Linked DNA regions of Homo sapiens: region 2 is linked to region 1. Evidence: fine-mapped QTL for protein levels in blood plasma. A gene starts in region 1. The other region holds a variant in brackets. All regions are shown on one strand. Distances are between the middles of the regions.

What was found. A credible set is the group of variants that fine-mapping cannot tell apart. PIP is the posterior inclusion probability: the model's chance that the variant is causal. Protein levels are from antibody-based Olink assays in UK Biobank. Linkage for the fine-mapping came from a reference panel and not from the study's own genotypes, which makes the PIPs less certain.
Region 2: its variant is the best candidate, but not a certain one, in a credible set for the plasma level of the KLK4 protein (UK Biobank, PIP 0.57).

What each region holds. Positions count from the first base shown.
Region 1 is chr19:50,907,330-50,915,663 of GRCh38, reverse strand. It overlaps KLK4 (kallikrein related peptidase 4), which reads left to right and starts at 4,269. Exons shown (of 6, transcript NM_004917.5): 1 at 4,269-4,325; 2 at 4,915-4,986; 3 at 6,250-6,412; 4 at 6,835-7,085; 5 at 7,169-7,305. The coding sequence starts at 4,926.
Region 2 is chr19:50,885,111-50,893,444 of GRCh38, reverse strand. It overlaps the pseudogene KLKP1. Among named protein-coding and RNA genes, the nearest start is that of KLK2, 16 kb to the right of the region's middle. RefSeq lists enhancers at 2,145-2,254, 2,325-2,374. The variant T/C (reference allele first, on the strand shown) is at 3,583.

The sequences.
Region 1 (8,334 bases):
TCTACCCACTTCTGTCTGTTCTTCTCTTTTGGCCTCAGTCTTTCTGTGACCTTGGTAAACTACTTACCCTCTCTGTGCCTCAGTTTCTCCATCTGTCAAACAAAGTTCATAGCAGCATCTACTTCTTAGATTTTTTTGAGGAATACATTTGTTATTGCATTTAAAATACTTAGAAGAGGGCCAGACATAAGGTAAGTTCTTGACCTCCTTACAATTAATTTAACATATTCTAAAGGTTAATTAATAGTAAGCTACCATTGTTGTCTGTTGTTATTTTCTCTCTCCGTCAGCCTTCATCTCTCCCTCTCCTGTCTGTCTCTCTCTATTTTTGTATCTCCCTTTATCCATCCACTCAACACATCTGCAGTGAATAGTTTTTATCAGTGAACATAACAGACACCAGCCCTGTCCCCAAGGGGCTCCCACACTAATGAAAGAAACAGCTACTAGAAAAATAAACACACAAGACGGGCGCGGTGGCTCTCGCCTGTAATCCCAGCACTTTGGGAGGCCAAGGTGGGCGGATCACCTGAAGTCAGGAGTTTGAGACCAGCCTAGCCAACATGGTGAAACCCCATCTCTACTAAAAATACAAAAATTAGCCAGAATTGGTGGCAGGCACCTATAATCCCAGTTACTGGGGAGGCTGAGGCAGGAGAATCGCTTGAACCCGGGGGGCGGAGGTTGCAGTGAGCAGAGATCGCACCACTCTACTCCAGCCTGGGTAACACAGTGAGACTCCATCTCAAAGAAACAAACAAACAAACAAAAAAGAAAAAAAAAGAAAAAGAAACACATAATAATACGTGTATACATTGTACCAAATTCTCTAAAGGAGCATGTAGGATGCTATAAGATGAAAAAACAAATAGGGGAGTGAAGACCCTGAATCAGACTAGGGGAGGGCTCAGGGAAGGGCTCTGAAGAAGTAACACTTGAGTTGAGACACAATGAAGAGAGCGAAGGGAGAAGTGTTGGAAGCGCATGGAAAACAAAGACAGAGCAACATGAGAGAAGACAGGAGGAAAGTGGAGACAGAGAAAGATAGACAGAGACAAAGGTGCAGAGCCACAGACAGAGAGACAGAGACAGAGATGGGAGGAGAGAGACACAGAGAAAGATGGACAGAGACAGGTGCGGAGACACAGACAGAGAGACAGAGACAGAGATGGGAGGAGAGAGACACAGAGAAAGATGGACAGACACACAGGTGCGGAGACACAGACAGAGAGACAGAGACAGAGATGGGAGGAGAGAGAGACACAGAGAAAGATGGACAGAGACATGTGCGAAGCCACAGACAGAGAGACAGAGACAGAGATGGGAGGAGAGAGAGAGACACAGAGAAAGATGGACAGAGACACAGGTGCGGAGACACAGACAGAGAGACAGAGACAGAGATGGGAGGAGAGAGACACAGAGAAAGATGGACAGACACACAGGTGCGGAGACACAGACAGAGAGACAGAGACAGAGATGGGAGGAGAGAGACACAGAGAAAGATGGACAGACACAGGTGCAGAGACAGACAGAGAGACAGAGACAGAGATGGGAGGAGAGAGACACAGAGAAAGATGGACAGACAGGTGCGGAGACAGACAGAGAGACAGAGACAGAGATGGGAGGAGAGAGAGACAGAGAAAGATGGACAGACACACAGGTGCGGAGACACAGACAGAGAGACAGAGACAGAGATGGGAGGAGAGAGAGACACAGAGAAAGATGGACAGAGACAGGTGCGAAGCCACAGACAGAGAGACAGAGACAGAGATGGGAGGAGAGAGAGACACAGAGAAAGATGGACAGAGACACAGGTGCGGAGACACAGACAGAGAGACAGAGACAGAGATGGGAGGAGAGAGAGACACAGAGAAAGATGGACAGACACACAGGTGCGGAGACACAGACAGAGAGACAGAGACAGAGATGGGAGGAGAGAGACACAGAGAAAGATGGACAGACACAGGTGCAGAGACAGACAGAGAGACAGAGACAGAGATGGGAGGAGAGAGACACAGAGAAAGATGGACAGACAGGTGCGGAGACAGACAGAGAGACAGAGACAGAGATGGGAGGAGAGAGACACAGAGAAAGATGGACAGAGACAGGTGCGGAGCCACAGACAGAGACAGAGATGGGAGGAGAGAGACACAGAGAAAGATGGACAGACACAGGTGCAGAGACACAGACAGAGAGAGAAGGCAAGGTGAGACAGAGACAGGAGGAAAGAGAGACACACAGGGGCAGACAGAGACAGACAGAGATCAGAGGGTCACAGACAGAGGTCAGAGGGAGAGCGAGAGAGAAGGGATCAGAGAGAGAAAGGGACAGGGACAGGGAAAAGAGAGACAGAGACAGAAACCTGCCAGGGCTTCCTGTTCTGTGGTCCCAGCCTATGTCCCGTCCTGCCCAGAGTTATCTGGGGGCGCACGGGCCCAGGACAGAGTTGGGGGAGGGTCTCACTTGGGATGCTTCCAGTCTGGCAGGTGAGAGAAACAGAGACAAGGGGGAGAGAGACAGAGATGGGACCAGAGAGGCAGAGGAAAAGAGAGCCAGAGAGAAAGAGAGACAGACACACGGGGTGGGCTGTGGGGGAAAGAAGTAAGGAAGGAGAAGGAAAGAGTGTTAGAGACCCAGGAGAGACAGAGAGACACAGAGACATTCCTGCCTCGTCGCGGTCACCTGCGGGCACTATCCCTCACCCGCGCCGGCTCCGCGGTCTACACCCACCCACTCCTTGGATGATCTCACCCGGCCTCGTGGCTGTAAACACCACCTCTCCCCTGATGAGTCCCCGCTGTTTCTCGGCAGTCCTGACCTCGGCCTGCCCCTCCGTGCACCCTCCGCGGTCTACGGCACCCTCTCACCCCCCACCCCCCTTCCCGCACCTATGCGTCTCCACAAGATCCGTAGAGCGCAAGCCAGCAGACCAAGCCTCCACGCCATCCTTGGCCCCTCTGCTCCTGGCCCCCCACTTTCCATCCATCGGGCAGTAACTTGGCTCCACATGCAGAGGGGACCCCGTGTCCATTCACCTCTCTTCTCCCTTGACCCCGTCACCTCCCACCTGGGCTGTTGCCACTGCCCCCCGCCCCGCCCCCACCATCACTCTCCAAGCTGGAAGTTTTTAAAAAGTAAATAAGATTATGTCACTCCATCCTCGTGCTTAAAATCCATTGCACTTAAGTAAAACCCAAGCTCCTTAATCCTGGTACGTAAACTCCTGCAGGCCCGCCCGGTTCCCGGTCTGCGCTCCTACCCGCCCTGCCCTCCTACCCGCCCTGCCCTCCTCTGGCTGGAGCCAAGTTCTCCCCTGCACCCCGCAACCGCCCCTGCTGCGGCGACCCTCCTCCTCCTCTTCCCTGGGATCTCAGCTTAAATGTTCCCCTTCTCTGAGTCTCCCCGACCACCACCTTATATGCTGGTCCCTGCAGTTTTCCTTTATGGTCTGTGCCCCCGGGTAGGACGCGATCCCCAGTGACGAGGACTTTGCTGGTTCCTCCTGTGGCCCCAGCACCTGCCGCAGAGCTCGGAGTGTGGTAGGCACTCAGCTGCTTTTCACTGAGCGAAGACTTTTTAGTTCTCCCGCTCACCGAGAGCCTACAATGTGCCTGGCACTGTGTGCCTTTCCCTGAATTACCTCTTTGAATCCACTTGGGAAATGGGGCATAATGGTCACTCCAGTTTTACAGTTGGAAAAACAGGCTCACAGGGGTGCAGTCACTTGCCCAAGGTTCCAAAAATAGTTCGTGATGTAGGCTGGATACGAACCTGGGGAAATTTGCTGGAGAAGCACAGAAAGAGAGGGATGAAGGAGGAGGGGAGAGAGAGAGAGAGATTTAATTTAAAAAGAGAAAGAACATGAGAGAGAACAGGAGAGAATGAGAGGAAATGAAAGAAAACACGAGAAAAATAATGAGAGAGAGAATGAGAGAAAGAAAGAAGAAGAGAAAGAGAAAATGAGAGATACAGGCAAGAGAGAGGTATCTCATGAGAGAGAATAAGAACATGAAAAGAGAAAGAATGAGAGAGAGAGAGAGAAAGAAAAAGGAGAGTGGAGTCTAGGATCTGGGCAGGGGTCTCCTCCCTGGGTCCCTAGACCCTGCTGCCAGCCCCTTCTGGGCCCCCAACCACTGCCTGGTCAGAGTTGAGGCAGCCTGAGAGAGTTGAGCTGGAAGTTTGCAGCACCTGACCCCTGGAACACATCCCCTGGGGGCAGGCCAGCCCAGGCTGAGGATGCTTATAAGCCCCAAGGAGGCCCCTGCGGGAGGCAGCAGGCTGGAGCTCAGCCCAGCAGTGGAATCCAGGAGCCCAGAGGTGGCCGGGTAAGAGGCCTGGTGGTCCCCCACTAAAAGCCTGCAGTGTTCATGATCCAACTCTCCCTACAGCTCCATGTCGCTGGATTCTCAGCCTCTGTGCCTTCTGTCTCCACATCTCTCTAGACAGATCTCTCACTGTCTCTAGTTAGGAGTCACTGTCTCTAGTTAGGGGTCTCTCTGTCTCTCTGAATCTATATCTCCATGTCTAACTCTCAGACTGTCTCTGAGGATATCTCTCAAGCACTCTGTCTCTCCGGCTCTGATTCTCTGTGTGTCTTCCCTCCATGCTTGTTTGTGGGTGGCTAGACACCATCTCTCCCCATTCACAGATGGCTAGATGCTTTCTCTAAACTTTCCTTTCTACCTAGTTCTCTCTCTCTCTCTCTTTTCCCATCTCTCTCTCTCTTTTTCTCTCTCAGTCTCTAAATCTGTCTCTCTAGGTTCTGGGTCCATGGATGGGAGAGGGGGTAGATGGTCTAGGCTCTTGCCTACCTAATAACGTCCCAGAGGGAAGAAAGGGAGGGACAAAGAGAGGGATGGAGAGACTTGGGCTGAAGATCCCCAGACACGGCTAAGTCTCAGTCCTCATCCCCAGGTGCTGACGTGATGGCCACAGCAGGAAATCCCTGGGGCTGGTTCCTGGGGTACCTCATCCTTGGTGTCGCAGGTATCTGAGTATGCGTGTGTGTGTCTGTCCGTGCTTGGGGGCACAGTGTTTGTTAATGTTCAGGTGTGACTCAGTGTCCTCTTGCTTGTGACTGCAAAGCTGCCTGTGAGACGGTACCGTGTTATCCGTCCCCCATGGCTGTGCCCCTGCAACTCCTTGTATCGTGGTAAATTTGTGTGTGGCAGTGTGCCTGGGTGTGTGGTTGTACCTGTGAGACTCTGACAGTTTGTGCCTCTGAATATCTGGTGGAGTGACAACAGTGTAATGATGATATGGGGACAGGGGAAGCCGAGGGTGCAGGAGATTGTGCTTCCTGGGGCGTGATCCATTGCTGGGAATCTGTGCCTGCTTCCTGGGTCTTCAGTCCTGAGATCCCCCTCTCCCATCCCCAAGGAACTCACCTCACAGGACTATAAAACGGTGTTTTGGTGTGCATGGGCTTGTGGCTTGGTGTGACTGTGGGCAAGGCTGGGAGAGGATAGGAGTGACTCGGCGCAGGACCGACTCTTTGAGCATCAGTCTGCGCAGACAAGTGACCCGATCCTTGCTCCCAGCAACAACTCCACCCCCTGAGCTTTAATTCACCCCGAAGGACCCGATCCTACTGCTATGAGCCTAGACTCCTCTGTTGAACCCCTCCTGACCGTGGCTTTGCACCGCGATGGCACCAGTCTCACCTCCAGAGCTCACCCCAGAGCCCTGACTCCGCCCCAGAAGCCCTGGTCCCACCTTCTGAGACTGCCTCTAGCCATAACCCAGCTCTTGAAGCCTTGATGGCGCCCCTGCGCTGTAACCCCAACCCTAGGAGCACTGATCCCGCCTTCTCAGCCCACCCCCATGCCCTGACTCTCCTCCCAGGAGCCCTGACTACCCTGAATCCCTGACCAGGCTCCTGCACCGTGATCACCGCCCCTGGGAGCCCTAGGCCTATATCCTGGACCAGCCCCTGAAGCTCCGATCATGACCCCTGCACCATAACCCCACCCCCAGGAGCCCTGGGTCCGCCCCCTGGGCCCGCCCCCAGCCCTGACTCGGCCCCCCAAGAGTCCTGACTGCTCCTGAAGCCCTGACCACGCCCCTGCTCGGTAACCCCTCCCCCAAGAGCCCTGGGCCCGCCTCCTGAGCCCGTTCCCAGCCCTGACTCCGCCCCGAGGAGCCCTGACTGCTCCTGAACCTCTGACCACGCCCCTGCTCGGTAAGCCCACCCCCAGGAACCCTGGGCCCGCCTCCTGGTCCCGATCCCATCCCTGACTCCGCCCTCAGGATCGCTCGTCTCTGGTAGCTGCAGCCAAATCATAAACGGCGAGGACTGCAGCCCGCACTCGCAGCCCTGGCAGGCGGCACTGGTCATGGAAAACGAATTGTTCTGCTCGGGCGTCCTGGTGCATCCGCAGTGGGTGCTGTCAGCCGCACACTGTTTCCAGAAGTGAGTGCAGAGGTAGGGGGAGTGGGCAGGGCCTGGGTCCGGGGGCGGGGCCTAATATCAGGCTCATCTTGGGGTGCTCAGGGGGAAACAGCGGTGAAGGCTCTGGGAGGAGGACGGAATGAGCCTGGATCCGGGGAGCCCCAGAGGGAAGGGCTGGGAGGCGGGAATCTTGCTTCGGAAGGACTCAGAGAGTCCTGACTTGAAATCTCAGCCCAGTGCTGAGTCTCTAGTGAACTAAGGCAAGTTCTTGTCCCTGAATTTTTGTGAATGAGGATTTGAGACCATGGTTAAGTAGCTCTTAGGGTGTTTAGCGAAGAGGGTGGGGTTGGGGTTAGGAGATGGGGATGGGAATGGGGTTGAAGATGAGAATGGAGGTAAGGATGTAGTTGCCACAAAACTGACCTGCCCTCCGTGGCCCACAGCTCCTACACCATCGGGCTGGGCCTGCACAGTCTTGAGGCCGACCAAGAGCCAGGGAGCCAGATGGTGGAGGCCAGCCTCTCCGTACGGCACCCAGAGTACAACAGACCCTTGCTCGCTAACGACCTCATGCTCATCAAGTTGGACGAATCCGTGTCCGAGTCTGACACCATCCGGAGCATCAGCATTGCTTCGCAGTGCCCTACCGCGGGGAACTCTTGCCTCGTTTCTGGCTGGGGTCTGCTGGCGAACGGTGAGCTCACGGGTGTGTGTCTGCCCTCTTCAAGGAGGTCCTCTGCCCAGTCGCGGGGGCTGACCCAGAGCTCTGCGTCCCAGGCAGAATGCCTACCGTGCTGCAGTGCGTGAACGTGTCGGTGGTGTCTGAGGAGGTCTGCAGTAAGCTCTATGACCCGCTGTACCACCCCAGCATGTTCTGCGCCGGCGGAGGGCAAGACCAGAAGGACTCCTGCAACGTGAGAGAGGGGAAAGGGGAGGGCAGGCGACTCAGGGAAGGGTGGAGAAGGGGGAGACAGAGACACACAGGGCCGCATGGCGAGATGCAGAGATGGAGAGACACACAGGGAGACAGTGACAACTAGAGAGAGAAACTGAGAGAAACAGAGAAATAAACACAGGAATAAAGAGAAGCAAAGGAAGAGAGAAACAGAAACAGACATGGGGAGGCAGAAACACACACACATAGAAATGCAGTTGACCTTCCAACAGCATGGGGCCTGAGGGCGGTGACCTCCACCCAACAGAAAATCCTCTTATAACTTTTGACTCCCCAAAAACCTGACTAGAAATAGCCTACTGTTGACGGGGAGCCTTACCAATAACATAAATAGTCGATTTATGCATACGTTTTATGCATTCATGATATACCTTTGTTGGAATTTTTTGATATTTCTAAGCTACACAGTTCGTCTGTGAATTTTTTTAAATTGTTGCAACTCTCCTAAAATTTTTCTAATGTGTTTATTGAAAAAATCCAAGTATAAGTGGACTTGTGCAGTTCAAACCAGGGTTGTTCAAGGGTCAACTGTGTACCCAGAGGGAAACAGTGACACAGATTCATAGAGGTGAAACACGAAGAGAAACAGGAAAAATCAAGACTCTACAAAGAGGCTGGGCAGGGTGGCTCATGCCTGTAATCCCAGCACTTTGGGAGGCGAGGCAGGCAGATCACTTGAGGTAAGGAGTTCAAGACCAGCCTGGCCAAAATGGTGAAATCCTGTCTGTACTAAAAATACAAAAGTTAGCTGGATATGGTGGCAGGCGCCTGTAATCCCAGCTACTTGGGAGGCTGAGGCAGAAGAATTGCTTGAATATGGGAGGCAGAGGTTGAAGTGAGTTGAGATCACACCACTATACTCCAGCTGGGGCAACAGAGTAAGACTCTGTCTCAAAAAAAAAAAAAAAAAAAAGACTTTACAAAGAGATGCAGAGACACTGAGACAGATAAACAAGCCACAAAGGAGACAAAGGAGAGACAGACAAAC
Region 2 (8,334 bases), 22 kb after region 1:
CCAAAAGCCATGTATTTCAGGTTTCATAGACTGGACACATCTGGCTTTTCTCAAGCATCTTGTGACCCAAGCCTCCCTGTGGTCCTAGGCTCCTCCCTATGGACACAAAGCCTAAGTCAGCCACCATGTTGGACACACCCACAAGGGGGCAGACGTGGGCAGTGCCATGTGATACATGTGACTGGAGAGGCGCACGGGTGATGGTGGGCTAGTTGCGCCGAAGTGACGCCATAGTGGTGCGCCGGGATCCTCATAGTGCTGATGATGTCAGAAGATGCGCCAAACGCCCTTCAGCTGTTTAGAACCAGCGCGCTTGCGCAGTTCCTGCTCGTCGGGCTCCTGCTGGCCCAGCAACTATAGGGAGCTAGCAGGCCAGTGGTTACCCACAAGCTGAGTGTGGAGTAGACAGAAAGACCCAAATGTTAGCAATCTGGGATCCCCAAGCCCTGTGATAATCTGAAATTCCACTTACCACCTCCTGAGGCCCTGGTACCAATGGCCCCTACTCCTGCCTCTCAGATAGCTAAGAGTTCCAATGTGTGGGCACACACCCATTGGGCTGTAGTCCCCAAGCTCCAGTACTTTTGTCCTCAGAGGAGTCAAGGACTCTCTCCCCAACCCATTAAAATACAGGAGTCCAGAATCCCAACATTTTCCTTCTCCAAGACCTTGGACTCCCGGCTTTCAGCCTTCTCCAACTCCAGGTACAGAACCCATGGGTTCCTACTCCCAGCCACGTTTTTCAGGACCCTGACCCCTGCCTTCTTACCAGGTTTGGTAGTGGGCCTCAGAGAGCTCACAGCGGGGGACAGTGCATGAAGGACCACAGTTAAAATGTCCACATTCAAAGAAAATCACTTGCCAAGATTGGGAGCAGAGCATACACTCCTCAGTTCCCAGGACCTAGTCACCGTCCTAGGCCTCTGGGATGGGAGTAGAGGATCCATGAGGACAGGGTCCTTCTCACCTCCTATTCCCTGACTGTGCCCTTATCTACCTACATATTCTTCACTTATGCCTTCCCCTCAGTTTCTCCAGGAGCCTCTGATATGTTTTTAAAATACTGTTTTCTCTCTAGCTTTAAAAAACTTTTGCCTCTTTTCCCTGGAACTGTATCCTTTTTTGTTCCCACCACCCATCTCATGTGTTATAGGTTCCCAAAAGAGAGAGAAAGGGGAAAAGACCAGAGGGCAAGAAGTTCTCTGTGGTTGGGGATGAAGATAAGGTCACTGGATACAGTGAGTTCAGACAAGTGGTCACTTGGAGCCAGTCATTCAGGCTCATTCATCTGTCACAGATATTAAATGGATGTGACACTCAGTATGTATGACACACAAATTTGGTCCCAGAGTTTGGGTATCTCGGCCAAACTCAGGGTCATACAAGGGCACAGATGTGGCCATACTAGATTGTGGACCTACATATATGCACAACCAGACTTTCAAACTTAGGTATTGGTAGGTACAGCATTTACAGCTTACCTTCACGTAACATATAAATAGATCTCAGCTTCGAGGGTCACTATATGGACATTGATATTTGTATGTAAGTGTGGACAGTTAAGACATGGGTGTGGCTAGGCACAGTGGCTCACGCCTGTAATGCCAGTACTTTGGGAGGCCAACGTGGGTGGATGACCTCAGATTGGGAGTTCAAGACCAGCCTGACCAACATGGAGAAACCCCTTCTCTACTAAAAATACAAAATTAGCCAGGCATGGTGGCACATGCCTGTAATCCCAGCTACTCGGGAGGCTGACACAGGAGAATAGCTTGAACCAGGGAGGCAGAGGTTGACTTGAGCCAAGATCATGCCATTGCACTTCAGCCTGGGCAACAAGAGCAAAACTCTGTCTCAAAAAAAAAAGACATAGGTGTATGTGTGCATACACACGCGCACACACGCGCACACACACACACACACAGAGCTTTGGACATAGAAGCTTGGACCAAAATCTACACTCCACTGTAGGTCTGGATACCCAGTGTTCCAGTTGCACACACTTGCACACAAGGTCTGAACGTACAAGGTGGGGGCCTTAGTAAAGGTACACAGGAGAGAGACACTGATATGCAGTGTTGGGTTTGACTTTGAGGGGACATATCCTGAGTAGCCCCTCCAAAAGCAATTCACAGACATGGGTCTATAGTATGGTGGTTGTATCCAAAAGTATGACCACCTGGGATCAAACATATTATTTCTGAATCTTTGAGAAAATTATTTGACCTCAATGTCTTTCCATTTCCTCATTTGTTCATGGGGGTTTCCTTAAGACTTAAATAGAAAAATGTGTCTTTGTGTGTATGCCTGTGTGTGGGTGTGCATGATAATGCCTGGCACACAGTAACTGTAATGCATAGTAATAAATATCAGTTATTTTAATCAAGGACACATGACTTAGTTATGGTACATACGTGTGCACGTTCAGATTTTGAAAACAAATATAGCCAAAATCAGACATATGTGCAGACCCAGATAAAGTTAGTCAAAGCTAATACTGTGATTCATCCATAAAACCACTTAGTGGTGATTCAGAGTTGCAGACACCAACCCCAAGGGCCAGACATTCAAATACAGCTTCATAGGTTAGATTCCTGGCTACTCCCAGACACAGAGTTGGGCATTTATGGGGAAAGACATATTCTGGAGACACAGGCAGCTGGGACAGGAAAGATTTATCTGTCTCTAGATCACCCCCCAAGTCAGACACTTGGTGTTGAAGGTTACTCATCAGTTTTCCCATATGGGGACATGGCTCACATGTGTGGGCAGGTAGTGGACAGCAGGGCCTTGCACACCCACCACATACACATGTGCATGCACATACACACACACACAACACACACACACGCACACAGAACTGCACTACGCACAAGTACCAAACAAGGACTTTTCACAGTCAGAAGACCCTGAGCCTCTACACTGGGAAACGTGGATATGTCCCCTCAAAGTCAAATCCACACATAAACAGACAGCAACAATAGGGCACATCCAGATCAGATCCCCATATTTTTCCTGCCATCTTTGGGAACTGGGCCTGGCACACTGGTGAGGCTAGGGTAACAGATGTGGCAGACAAGGGGTATAAGGAAGAAAGTATAAGTTTGTTTTGCAGGGAAGGTTAGAGAATTTAAATTATGATTCTGAGAGAAAATTCTCCATGGGCCTCTCATGTTTCTACATGGCTTCAAAGTGAAAAAAAAATTGCTTTGGACTATCAAGGATGTTTGGCTAGCAAGCCATCTTGCAAATGGTATTTTCAACAAAACAGCTTTGCTTACCGACCAGTGTAATAATGTGTCCCTTAAAGCAGATTTGTTTAGTGTTCAGTACAATAAATATAGTATGTTCCTCCAGAGCAGGTCTGTTTGTGGTCGGGATAACGAAGAATGTGTCTCCCTCTCGGACAAATATTAATAGTCCCTTCATACGATTCAGGATTCCTAAGCTCAGGTTTCTCAGCTGTGGGTCAAAGCATCGTGTCACAGGATCCTCCTAAACTTCTCTGATCATTCCTGTGGGACTTAGGGTCAAGGCGAACTGATGTGAACACAAAGCTCATGCTGTCTTCTGTGCTGTGAG[T/C]AATAAAGTCCTTTGCCTTTGATCCAGAATCCAGTGTGTTCTGCCAGTATCCATAAAACTGTGGCAGGCTAACTTATTTGTTTGCCAGTTGGCAAAATATCAGCCCCTTCAGAGTTTTTGACAAACAGTTGGGCACTAAGGCTGCACCTGTCCAGCTGGAGATGGAAGGGTGGGAGGTAGGAGGGGCCCCAGCTGGGCACAGCCACATGACAGAAGAGGGACCAAGGCTAGGTTGAACTTTTTTGAGGGCAGTGTAAGCCAAGCTGAAGTTGAACTTTCTTGGCCCTTGGAGTTAGGAGGGGCCCCAGCTGGGCACAGCAAAATAACAGAAGAGGGAACAAGGCTGAGTTGAACTTTTCTGGGGATAGTGTAAGCCAAGCTGAAGCTGAACCTTCTTGGCTCTAGCTGGATCCTTCCAGATACAAATTCATCCCACCTTTGGCATAATAAATTTCCTTTCGCCATTTGTCTCTCCTCCTCCCCAACATGCTCTTCCTCTTGGGTTCTCCCTCTTGGGAGAGTTCACTGCTTCCTCAGGCACCAGGATAGATGCCAAGTGCCCCACATCCTGCCAGACACTGGCCACATTCTATCTGTCCCCTGGATCTTCATTTTTAAAGCCTCAGGCCACATCCTCTAACTAGACCCTTTCCCCAGTCTCCTGACCATAATCAGAGTCTTCCCACATGTCTTCATTCCAACTTTTGGGATCCCTACCCTTTCAATTATGCCTTCACTTTAATGGCAGACAGCATGCATGCTGAGGATTTAATTAGCACTGTAATTCAGCCACTCACACAATAAGATTCTAGGTTTGATTTTCAGAAATCTCAGCTCTGTGGCTACAGGAGATAAAGGTTTCTTTCAACATCATAGACATAGCAACTTTAGATTATTTCTTCAGTCTGAGATCTGGAAATTTAAAGTCCTGTGCTCATTCTTTTCTTTTTCCACTTTTGCCAACACAACTAGAAGCAATCATCCAATTTCATTATGCTTGTTACTTTAAAAAATATTCTAAAGTGTCATATACATGATCACCCTGGTCATTTCTCCTTTATTTGATTCGGAATATCCAGTGGTGTTATTTTGCATATCTCTATTGCCACATTACACCACGGACTTTTATTTCTGTTTGTATTACTGAAAATAGAGTTGTGGTGCCTTTAATTTATTCGCATTACAGAACCAATTCCAAACACTAGAAATGCCAGAACTAATTCAGAAAGCTCATCCTTAAGACTTCCTTCCTCTAGAACAACTAGTAAAGTTTCTCTCAGACAGGATTTTTAGAGAAACAGAAAAAAAATAAGATACACACACACAAATATACACATGCAAAGAGACAGACAGAGATGGAGACGGAAAGACAAGGACAAGAAGATGGAATCTGAGCTAATGGCAGAGACATGGAACCAGTAGAGAAGAGACCCACTGTCTTCAGAGAGTGCTGACCAGGAAGAGGAGAAGCCTTGGGGACTGGATCAGGTGTCTGTCCCTAGGTCCCCATTCCTGACTCTTCTCCTGCCACCCTGATCTGGGTGTAGCATCATATTAGGTAATTTGGCTGAAAAAACTGCTAACTTGGGAAAATGTCCCCTGTCCATAGGAGCAGGACATCCCAGACTCAAGAAGCTCATAAACCCACAAGCACTCTGTCCTTCATCTCCCCACCACAGCCTCCTAGACAAGACCCCAAATCACCCCACATACTTTGCTCCCAACCCAATGCCTGCTCCAGGCAATCTCATGTCTCCTACCCTAATCCCTGGGGTTTGCCCTGCTCTCAGAGCAAAGTCTCCCCACCAGGAACAGCCACCAACCCAAACCCCAAGGAATGGTCCAGAATCTCAGGCCCTCCTGTGTCCCTGGATCCCCAGCCCTGGTCCTCTGCCCCCTTCAAACCCACAGCCCAGCTCCCTCTCTTAGCCCAGTCCCTGGGCCCTCCTGCCAAGCCTGCCCTCCCTGACCCAGCACTCCCTCTGCAGATGCTGTGATTGCCATCCAGTCCCAGACTGTGGGAGGCTGGGAGTGTGAGAAGCTTTCCCAACCCTGGCAGGGTTGTACCATTTCGGCAACTTCCAGTGCAAGGACGTCCTGCTGCATCCTCACTGGGTGCTCACTACTGCTCACTGCATCACCCGGTGAGTGGGGACCTGGGGTCTGGGGAGGGGTGTCTGTGCCCCACAGGAATAACAGTTGGGCATTTCCCCTCAGATGAGGCTGGGGACAGAGGGAGAGAGACAGGGAAGGTTCTGGTTCAGGTTGCATGAACAGGCATTGGGGACCACCTTCCTGGGGGCTGCCTTGGTCTCTCACCGTATATCTGTCCATCTAGTCTCTCTGTGTCTCTTGGTATATGGCTCTGCTGTGTCTGTGTGGCTGTGTTTCGGCCTTGATCTCCCTCTCTCTTCTCTGTCTCTTGTCTCTGTGTCTCCCCGTCTCTGTTTTTCTCTGCATCTCTCTTGGCCATCTCTGTCATTGTGTATCTCAGCCCCCATCTCTCTGCCCATCTCTCTCTCTCGGCCATCTCTGTCATTGTGTATCTCAGTCCCCATCTCTCTGCCCATCTCTCTCTCTCTCTCGAGTCTCTCTCACCCCTCCCCACACCTCCCCATTGCCATCCTGAGCCTCTGCGGAAAGGAATAGAGGATCCCTGAGAACAGAGACTTCTTCCTATGTGGCCACCCTTCCCAGTGCCCTACAGTACCTACATATGTGAAAACCATTCACATATGCTTTTCCCACAATTTATCCGGAAGTCTTTGGTTTTTGGGGGAGTTAGTTTTGTTTGCTTTTTTGTTTTGTTTTGTTTTGTTTTTGAGACAGTCTTGCTCTGTTGCCCAGGCTGGAGTGCAGTGGTGCAATCTCGGCTCACTACAACCTCTGCCTCCCAGGTTCAAGCGATTCTCCTGCCTCAGCCTCCCGAGTAGCTGGGAGTACAGGCGCATGCCACCACGCCCAGCTAATGTTTTTCGTTTTTTGTTTTTTGTTTTTTGTTTTTTTAGTACAGACCGGGTTTCACCATGTTAGCCAGGATGGTCTCGATCTCCTGACCTCGTGATCCGCCTGCCTTGGCCTCCCAGAATGCTGGGATTACAGGAGTGAGCCACTGTGCCCAGCCTCTGTTATTTTTGAAGCACTCTCCTCTCTTTAGGTTTTACAGCTGCAGCCTGTTTTTCCAGAACTTCTCCTTTCATCTCCTATCCTACATGTGATAGGTTCCTGAGAGCCAGAGAGAGACAGACAGAAGGGAAATGAAGGACCAGAGGGCAAAATTCCCTCTGTGATTGGAGATGGAGACAGGTTCACTGGATACAGGTTTAGACAGACGGTTGCTTTCATATGTCAGAGACCTCAAACAGACGTGTCCATTCAATTTGTACGGTAGCATTCTTGGCCTCAGAATCTGGAGATCTAAGCCAAACTCAGCATGCCAGGGAAGGACACATATGTGACCACACAAGGTCATGGACATACATACAGGCACAAGATGGTTTCCAGGCTTGGATACATATATAGACTGTGTGCCTTAAGCAGAAATTCATATGCATGTACGTGTGGCTTATATAATAAGAGCCCAAGTGATCACATGTGCATATAAATATGGACAGGCATGGGTGTAAGCACACACATACACATTCATAGACACAGATTTGGACATAAGAGCTCAAACCTAAATTCATAACCTCCAGTGTGGCTCTGGGTGTGCAAGGTCACGTGGGTACACACTTGCACACAGGGTCTGGATGTACAAGGTTGGGTCTTTAATAAGATTACAAAGGGAAGAGACAGGGATATGCACTCAGAGTCCCAGACACTGATTCACAGACATGAGTATGGTGGTTATATCCAGAGTCTGACCACCTGCATTCAAAAATATCAGCTTTGAGACTTTGAGAAAATTCTTTGATCTCACTGTGCCTCCATTTCGTCTGTAAATTGGAGGTTGCTGTAAAGGTTAGATGGGTGGGAGATACATAGCATCTGTGGATATTCAGATTTGAGAAACAAATATGGCCGAAGTAATTCAGACATAATCACAGGACCGGATATGACAGTCAAGGTCAACACTGCGATTCATGCAGAAGCCAGTGTGCGGTGATTCAAAGTTGCAGGCGCAGTCCCAGAGGCCAGGCATTCGGATATGGACCCACTAGAGCAGATGCCAGGGTAGTACCCAGACACACGGTTGGCCATTCAAGGTCAAAGGTGTAGCTAGAGACACAGGCAGCCAGGAAAGGAAATAATCTACGTCTGGATCAGTGCCCACATCAGAGATACTTGGTATTGAAGGTGACTCATCAGGTTTTGCATTTGAGGACAAATGCACACATATGGGCAGGTAGTGGACAGACAGAGCCTCACACTCCCACCACCCATGTACATGCACACACAGAGCTTCACTATGCACAGATACCAAACAGAGACATTTCAAAGTCAAAGGACCTTCAAAGTCAAAGTCACACACACATATGCACCGAAGAGTAGGGCAGGGTTTGCTCATCCCGATTGAATTACTGTTGTTATATCTACCATGGGCATAAACAGGGCCCAGAACACTGGGAGAACTGGAGGAACGTGCAGTGAGTGAGAGGTGGAAGGGAAGAAAGGGGGGGCTCTCCAGCAGAGAAGGGTGGAGGCCAGGAGCTGAGTAGTGAGTGACAAATTTCCACGAGTCTCTTACATTTCTATATGTATTTTGAGCAAAGGTACTAACATTATCTTACTCGATAATATCTATCAAGGATG